Linked DNA regions of Homo sapiens: regions 2 and 3 are each linked to region 1. Evidence: fine-mapped expression QTL. A gene starts in region 1. Each other region holds a variant in brackets. All regions are shown on one strand. Distances are from middle to middle.

Region 1 (2,759 bases):
GGTGAAGGCTTGCGCCACGGGAAACTTTGGTAAGGTCAAGCTACGAGGCAACAAAAAGTGAATCACAACGCTGGAAAACACCTTAGGCCTCAACAGAGGCCGAACTCTGGCTGACGGATGGGGAAACTGAGGCCTCAAAGGGAAAGCAACTTGCTCAAGTTCACTCAGCAAGTGAATAGAGCAGGAATCGGGGGTCTCATCTCCCCCAGTCCCCTTTTCTCTCCAGCAAGGAGGCTTTTCAACGAGAATTCTGAGACAAGAGGACAGGGGAGAGGCCAAGGGGCAGCTCACAGATTCCACCGAGGAGTCGGGAGAGGGCACAGGTAGGACCAGGAAGCACAGAAATGCTAGGATGGGGGCAGAAATGAGCCGAGGAGGAGGCAGGGGCAGTAGCTAGGCAGGTGGGTGAGGCGAGAAGGAAAAGGCGGAAGAGAAAGGGACAGAGTGAGGGCGGAGGAAAGTGCTGTGAGATTGGGGTCTGAAGGGACCTGGCGGGGTGGAGAGAGGCTGAGGGGAGAGGGCAGAATAAGTCTGACGATGGAAAAGTCCAGGGATCGGGGAGACATTGAAGGGAGTCGGGGAGGGGGTCCCAGACCCGGCAAGAAGTCTGACCCGGAGAGTTCCAGGGTCAGACCAGACCCCGAGGCGAGTCTGATGAAGGTGAAGTCCGGGCCCGGGGAGCCTGGGGGGAGCCCGTGGCAAGTCTGAAGGGGCCGGGCAGCCTCACCGCGCTTGTTTTTGGTGCCGTGCTTCTTGGCGGCCGTCAGCTCCTGCTCGATTTTCTTCTCCAGGAACTCCTGTTTCTTGCTTAACATCTCTTCCGTGTCCCGCAGCCGCTGGATGGCCTCCTGGGGGGTCGGGCCGCCCTTGCCGGCCTTACCCCCTCCAGCCCCGAACAGCTTCCCGAACACCGACATGGTTGCTGCTCGCCGCGCCGGCCTTCGCCGCCCGCTCCGGCTCGGCTCGGCTCGGCTCGGCTCGGGTCGGCTCCGGCGCCCGCTCCCAGTCCCGCCGCTCCCTGCCGCCGCAGGCCTCTCCTCCGCCTCCGCCTCCGCCCCGCAGCTGGGCCCGGCCGCGCCACCTCCCACAGGCCCCCACGCCCGGCCCGGCAGGCGTCAGGGCAACGCGCCACTGACTACAACTCCCAGTGGGCAACGCGCCGGCCGCGCCTCAAATCTAATAGGGGGAAGCGTGCTGCATGCCGGGAAGCTATAGTCTTCCGGCTTCAGGCGCTCCCCGGCGCGTCTTTTGCTGTAGCTGGGGTCAAAGGGCGTGTGGCATTCTGGGAAATGTAGTCTCCTTGGCCTGCGCTCTGTAGGAGTGGCAGAACAGTAAGAGAAATGACAGTAAGTGTGCAACACTGCTCAAAAATTTATTGCTAGTATGGGATACTGCCATGCTTGAACTTCACATGTATATTCATGTGAAGTTGTCTTAAAAGCGTGAAGGCAACAGTTGTTTCCAATTTCAACCTGTCAATTCTGTGGTCACAGAAGCAAAGCAGTATCTTCTCCAGTTAAGTACGGTAGTGTCCCCCTTATCTGAGATTTTACTTTGAGTAGTTTCACTTGGCCAGCTAAGGTCTGACAGTATTAAATAGAAAATTCCAGAAATAAACAGTTCATAAGTTTTTAATTTCCATTGGCCTAATGAAATCTCGTGCTATCCTGTTCCATCCTACCTGCAATGTGAATCATCCCTTTGTCCAACATACCTCTACCATCTGTTAGTTACTTACCAGCTTAGGAGTTATCAGATGGACTGCCACGGTGTTGCAGTGCTTTGGTTCGAGTAACCCTCATTTTACTATATAATGGCCCCAAAGTGCAAGAGTAGTAATGCTGGCAGTTTGGATATGCCAAAATGAAGCTGTAAAGTGCTTCCTTTAAATGTAAATGTGGAAGTTCTGAGCTTAAGAAAAAAAATCGTATGCTGAGCTTACTGAGGTCTGCAGTAAGAACGAATCTTCTAGCCCTAGAATTGTGAAAGAGGAAAAAGAAATTCATGCTGGTTTTGCTGTCGTACCTCAAACTGCAAAAGTTACAGCCACAGTGTGTGATAAGTGCTTAGTTAAGATAGAAAAGGCATTAAGTTGTATCCTTACTTACAGGGGAAAAAAAGAAAATAAATTTTTTTACAAAAGAAAAGAAAAAGCATTAAGCTTATACGTGGAAGACACGAACAAAAAATGTGTTCCAACTGACAGCAACCTGTTACCCCCCAGAAAGCATTGAGCCTGTATAAAGGCTTCAGCAAGGAATCTCCTAAAACCAGTGGCACCAAGCCACTTACTGAAAGTAATGGATGGTTGCACTGACTTAGGAATAGGTTTAGACTGCAAAATATAAAAATTACTGGATGGGCTGGGCACAGTGGCTCACACCTGTAATCTCAGCACTCTGGCAGGCCTAGGCGGATGGATCACCTGAGGTCAGGAGTTTGAGACCAGCCTGGCCAACGTGGTGAAACCCCATCTCTACTAAAAATAAAAAATAAAAATAAAAAAATTAGCTGGGCGTGGTGGCGCACGCCTGTAATCCCAGCTACTTGGGAGGCTGAGGCAGGAGAATCACTTGAACCTGAGAGGCAGAGGTTGCAGTAAACTGAAATCGTGCTATTGCACTCCAGCCTGGGCGAAAAGAGCAAAATTCTGTCTCAAAAAGAAAAAAAAAATTACTGGAGCCGGGCGCGGTGGCTCACGCCTGTAATCCCAGCACTTTGGGAGGCCAAGGCGGGCGGATCACGAGGTCAGGAGATCG
Region 2 (2,759 bases), 25 kb after region 1:
ACACAATCTCGTCTTTCTTAGAAAAAAATATAATCCCTACTGGATATGTAAGCTCCAACAAAAAAAAAAGAAAGAAAAAATACAACCTGCACACCCCAAAAAAGCCCTGGCCATGTGTCTCTGTAAATAAACTGAAGATGCAGGAAGAAAGATGGGGAGGTGTAGGGAAAGGACAGACCAAAGTGTCAGTGGCAACTACAACTTGAAGGGGAAATTTAACATTTTACTTTATGTACTCCTATATTGTTTCCATTTTTATAATAACCATGTATTATTTGTGTGGTTTTTTTTGTTTTGTTTTGTTTCGTTTTTTGTATTTTTTTTTTTTTTTTTGAAACAGAGTCTTGCTCTGTTGCCCAGGCTGGAGTGCAGTGGTTTGATCTTGGCTCACTGCAACCTCCATCTCCTGGGTTCAGGCAATTCTCCTGCCTCAGCCTCCTGAGTAGCTGGGATCACAGGTGCGTACCACCACACCCGGCTAATTTTTGTATTTTTAGTAGAGACGGGGTTTCATCACGTTGGCCAGGCTGGTCTCAAACTCTTGACCTAGGTGCTCCACCCACCTTCACCTTCCAAAGTGCTGAGATTACAGGCATGAGCCACCGCGCCTGGCAGCATGTATTACTTTTGAATAATAATTTTTAAAAGCCATAAAGAGCAATTTGGTAATATCAAACTTACAATGCATTACTTCTTTTCCCTTCTTTATTGTGGAGAAATATACATAACAGAAAATTGACCATCTTAAGCTTCTTTTAAGTGTATAGTTCAGTGGCATAAGTACATTTGCACCATCATGCAACCATCACCATCATCTGTCTCTAGAATTTTTTCATCATCCCAAACTGAAACTCAGTATTACACATGCATTTTAACCTAGCATTTCCACTCCTAAGAATATACACTACAGATACACTTCCAAAAGCTTGCCAAGGGACCCACACAGCATTGTGTGTACAAACTAATAGCTGAAATGTAATTTAACGGTTCATACATAGGCTGGGCGTGATGGCTCATGCCTGTAATCCCAGCACTTTGGGAGGCTGGGGCGGGGGGATCACTTGAGGTCAGGAGTTCGAGACCAGCCTGGCCAACATGGTGAAACCACATATCTACTAAAAATACAAAAATTAGCTGGGCGTGATGGTGCACACCTGTAATCCCAGCTACTTGGAAGGCTAAGGCAGGAGAATTGCTTGAACTCAGGCGGCAGAGGTTGCAGTGAACCAAGATCGTGCCATTCAGTCTCAAAAAAAAAAAAAAAAAAAAAAAAGGTTCATACATAGAGAACTGGCTAAATACAAGATGAAAAATTCATTGAGGAAGACTACTCAGATGTGAAAAAGAAGGTGCTGTTGGTAACAACTTCTGGGGGGGGCCCGGGGGAGGGGGACCCACAGAATTTAGCCTCCAGGGGAACTGTAAGCACACATTCCTTGGGGAACATCGCCAAGGTATATGATAAGGAAAAAAAGGCACATAAGTTATAGTATGTGCTCATTTTTGCAAACGTAAGCAAGCGTTTTATATATGTGTAAAATAAAACTAGAAGAATGCAGACTAGACCGCTAACAGTTACCTTTGGGGAAGAGAATTAGGAGTATTTTGCAAACTGCAAACCA[C/A]AAGTTACACCCTGTTGGTGGTTATTTTAAGAATTAAAAATAGGCTGGGTGTGGTGGCTTGCATCTGTAATCCCAGCACTTTGAGAGGCCAAGGTGGGTGGGTAACCTGAGGCCAGGAGTTTGAGACCATCTTGGCCAACATGGTGAAACCCCGTCTCTACTGAAAATACAGAAATTAGCCAGGCATGTGGTGGGCGCCTGTAATCCCAGCTACTCGGGAGGCTGAGGCACGAGAATGGCTTGAACCTGGGAGGCGGAGGTTGTAGTGAGATCATACCATTGCACTCCAGCCTGGGTGACAGAGTGAGACCCTGTCTCAAAATAAAAATAAAAAATAAAAAAACTAAAATTGAAAAGGACAAAATAGAAAACACTGTTTTGTAAAACTTTTGTTGCAATACATCCTATGTGTGCTTCCTGGGTTGCAATATGAAATGTATTTTTTACCATAGGTCGTAGGAAAGAAAAAAAAGGAAAAACATTGGATTGTCCATCTGAAGTGAGAGGGAGTTTATTTTTTTATATATGCTTTTGTCCCGTCAAGGATTTTCCCTCAAGTTTTCTCAATCTTTAGATCCTTTTCAATTAAAAAGCAATTAAAAAATTTAACTAATAAAAAAATCTAAAGATTAATAGAAAAGAAAATGTCAGTGTGTTTCAACTGGGGAACCAAGGAGATGGCGTTTTGTTCAGGTTTGAGTGGGAACTTACAGTGAGAGCAGTGTCCCCACCACAGGGGGCAGAGTCAAGAGTCCCTCACACAGGCTGGGTGCAGTGCCTCACGCCTGTCATCCCAGCACTTTGGGAGGCCGAGGCAGGAGGATCACCTGAGGTCAGGAGTTCGAAACCAGCCTGGCCAACATGGCAAAACCCTGTTTCTACTAAAAATACAAAAAACTAGCTGGACATGGTGGTGGGAGCCTGTAATCCCAGCTACTCAGGAGGCTGAGGCAGGAGAATCACTTGAACCCGGGAGGCAGAGGTTGCAGTGAGCCAAGATCTGCCACCGCACTCCAGCCTGGGCAACAAGAGCGAGACTTTGTCTCAAAGAAAAAAAAAAAAAGAATAAAAAGTCCCTTCCACACAACCTCCAGGGGCTCTTCTCTGCTTTAGCGGTGGTGGGAATCCCTTGTTCAT
Region 3 (2,759 bases), 35 kb after region 1:
AGAGAGACGAGAGAGACATGACAACTGAATTCAACATGTGATTCTGGTTCAAAAAAACCTTTTTTTTCTTTTTCTCTAAAGCATGTTATTGGAACAATTGGAAAATTCTGAGTAAGGCCTGTAATTAGATAATAGAATTGTACTGATATTAACTTCCTGATTTCTTTTTCTTCTTTTTTTTTTTTTTTGAGACAAGAGTCTCGCTCTGTCACCCAGGCTGGAGTGCAGTGGCCCGATCTCGGCTCACTGCAACTTCCGTCTCCCAGGTTCAAGGGATTCTCCTGCCTCAGCCTCCCAAGTAACTGGGAATACAGGTGCCCGCCACCACACCCAGCTAATTTTTATAATTTAGTAGATACGGCATTTCGCCATGTTGGCCAGGCTGGTCTCGAACTCCTGACTTCAGGTGATCCGCCCACCTCAGCCTCCCAAAGTGTTGGGATTACAGGTGTGAGCCACCGCACCTGGCCTGATTTTTTTTTTTTTTTTTTTTTTTTTTTGAGATAGGGTCTCACTCTGTCCTTCAGGCGGGAGTGCAGTGGTGCGATCTCAGCTCACTGCAACCTGTACCTCCCGGGCTAAAGCAATTCTTCTGCCTCAGCCTCCTGAGCAGCTGAGACCACAGGCATATGCTACCATACCCACCTCTTTTTTTTTTTTTTTTTTTTTTTGGTAAAGACGGGGTTTTGCCACGTAGTCCAGGTTGGTCTCAAACTTCTGGGCTCAAGCAATCTGTCTACCTCAGCCTCCCAAAGTGCTGGGATTACAGGCATGAGCCACCGCACAGAGCCCAACTTCCTGATTTTGGTAACTATAGTATATTGCCCTTATGGAAGAGGTTATCCTTGTTTTTAGGAAATACAGGCCAGGTGTGATGGCTTACGCCTGTAATCCCAGCACTTTGGGAAGGCCAGGCAGGAGGATCACTTGAGGCCAGGAGTTCAAGACCAGCCTGGGCAACACAGTAAGACCCTGTCTCTACAAACAAACAAACAAACAAATTTACCTAGGAGTGATGGCGCCTGCCTGTAGTCCTAGCTACTGGGGAGGCTGAGGCAAGGCGACCACACCTGTGAATAGCTGATGCACTCTAGACTGGACAACACAGTGAGACTCTGTCTCTAAAAAAATAAAAATTGGCCAGGTGTGTGGCTCACGCCTATAATCCCAGACCTTTGGGAGAACAAGGCAGGTGGACCGCTTGAGCCCAGGAGTTCCAGACCAGTCTGGTCAACATGGTGAAATTCCATCTTTATAAAAAATAAAAAATTAGCCAGGCCTGGTGGCACACACCTGTGGTCCCAGCTACTCAGGAGGCTGAGCTGGAGGATTGCTTGAGCCCCGGAGGCGAAGGCTGCAGTGAGCTGTGATCATGC[T/C]ACTGTGCTCTAGCCTGGGTGACAGAGTGAGATCCTGTCTCAAAAAAAAAAAAAGGCCAGGTGCAGTGGCTCATGCCTGTAATCCCAGCACTTTGGGAGGCCAAGGTAGGAGGATCACTTGAGCCCAGGAATTTGAGACAAGCCTGAGCAATATGGCGAAACCCTGTTTCTACAAAAAGTTTAAAAAAAAAAATCAGATGGGCATGGTGGTGCATGCTTGTAGTCCCAGCTACCCAGGAGGCTGAGGTGGGAGAATCACCTGAGACTGGGGAGGTCAAGGGTCAAGGCTGCAGTGAGCCATGATCATGCCACTGCTTTCCAGCCTTGGTGATGGAGTGAGACCCTGTCTCTAAACAAAAAATTAATTAATTAATTATATTAAAATTAAAATACATACATAAGTTAAATTCATGAAACAAAGGAAAGCTTTAAAACACATATATTGAAGGCCAGGCATGGTGGCTTATGCCTGTAATCCTAGTACTTTGGGAGGCTGAGGAGGGTGGATTGCTTGAGCCTTGGAGTTCTAGGCCAGCCTGGGCAATATAGCAAGACCCTGTCTCTACAAAAAATACCAAAATTAGCTGGCAGTGGTGGCACACACCTGTAGTCCCAGCTACTCAGGAGGCTGAGGGGGATGGATTGTTTGAGCCAGGGAAGTCAAGGCTACAGCAAGCCATGATTGTGCCACTGTACTCCAGCCTGGGTGACTGAGCAAGATCCTGTCTCAAAAATCAATCAATCAATAATAAAATTATGACAAAATAAGAGGTTTACAAAGAACACTTTTCGAACATGATTGCCCGTGATATGGGGAAGTGGGTCACAGTGGATGGAGAATTCCTGTTCACTCTATGTCCTGTGATAGTTTTACAATATTGCACTGTATACATATAGTTTTTGAAGTAGATAATTAATCTTTAAAAAAAAAAAAAAAAGGCCGGGCACGGTGGCTCACACCTGTAATCCTAGCACTTTGGGAGGCCGAGGTGGGTAGATCACGAGGTCAGGGATCGAGACCATCCTGGCTAACATGGTGAAACCCCGTCTCTACTAAAAATACAAAAAATTAGCGGGGCATGGTGGCAGGTGCCTTGTAGTCGCAGCTACTAGAAAGGCTGAGGCAGGAGAATCACTTGAACCTGGGAGGCGAAGGTTGTAGTGAGCTGAGATCCTGCCATTGCACTCCAGCCTGGGCAACAGAGCGAGACTCCATCTCAAAAAAAAAAAAAAACAAAACCCTTTCAACTCTGACCTGCAAAATCACTTCTAGGAACTTAGAAAAGAGCAAAGATGTACTTCCGAAGTTGTTCCCTGTATAATTGTTATACTGATGACAAACTGAAAATAACCTCACTAACCAACAATGGGAGATGACAGAAG

What was found.
Region 2: its variant is fine-mapped to the expression of CHMP4B in whole blood (TOPMed, PIP above 0.99). The same link has a PIP of 0.9 or more in blood mononuclear cells.
Region 3: its variant is fine-mapped to the expression of CHMP4B in whole blood (TOPMed, PIP 0.99).

Annotation. Positions count from the first base shown.
Region 1 is chr20:33,809,627-33,812,385 of GRCh38, reverse strand. CHMP4B (charged multivesicular body protein 4B) reads right to left here and starts at 1,038. Exons shown (of 5, transcript NM_176812.5): 1 at 728-1,038. The coding sequence starts at 917. It overlaps ZNF341-AS1 (ZNF341 antisense RNA 1), which reads left to right and starts at 1,287. Exons shown (of 4, transcript NR_110623.1): 1 at 1,287-1,346. RefSeq lists enhancers at 1-483, 1,250-1,329, 1,069-1,363 and a silencer at 910-1,189.
Region 2 is chr20:33,784,542-33,787,300 of GRCh38, reverse strand. The region is part of intron 12 of ZNF341 (zinc finger protein 341); the gene reads right to left. Among named protein-coding and RNA genes, the nearest start is that of ZNF341-AS1, 25 kb to the left of the region's middle. RefSeq lists a silencer at 1,575-1,624. The variant C/A (reference allele first, on the strand shown) is at 1,623.
Region 3 is chr20:33,775,064-33,777,822 of GRCh38, reverse strand. The region is part of intron 10 of ZNF341 (zinc finger protein 341); the gene reads right to left. Among named protein-coding and RNA genes, the nearest start is that of ZNF341-AS1, 35 kb to the left of the region's middle. The variant T/C (reference allele first, on the strand shown) is at 1,377.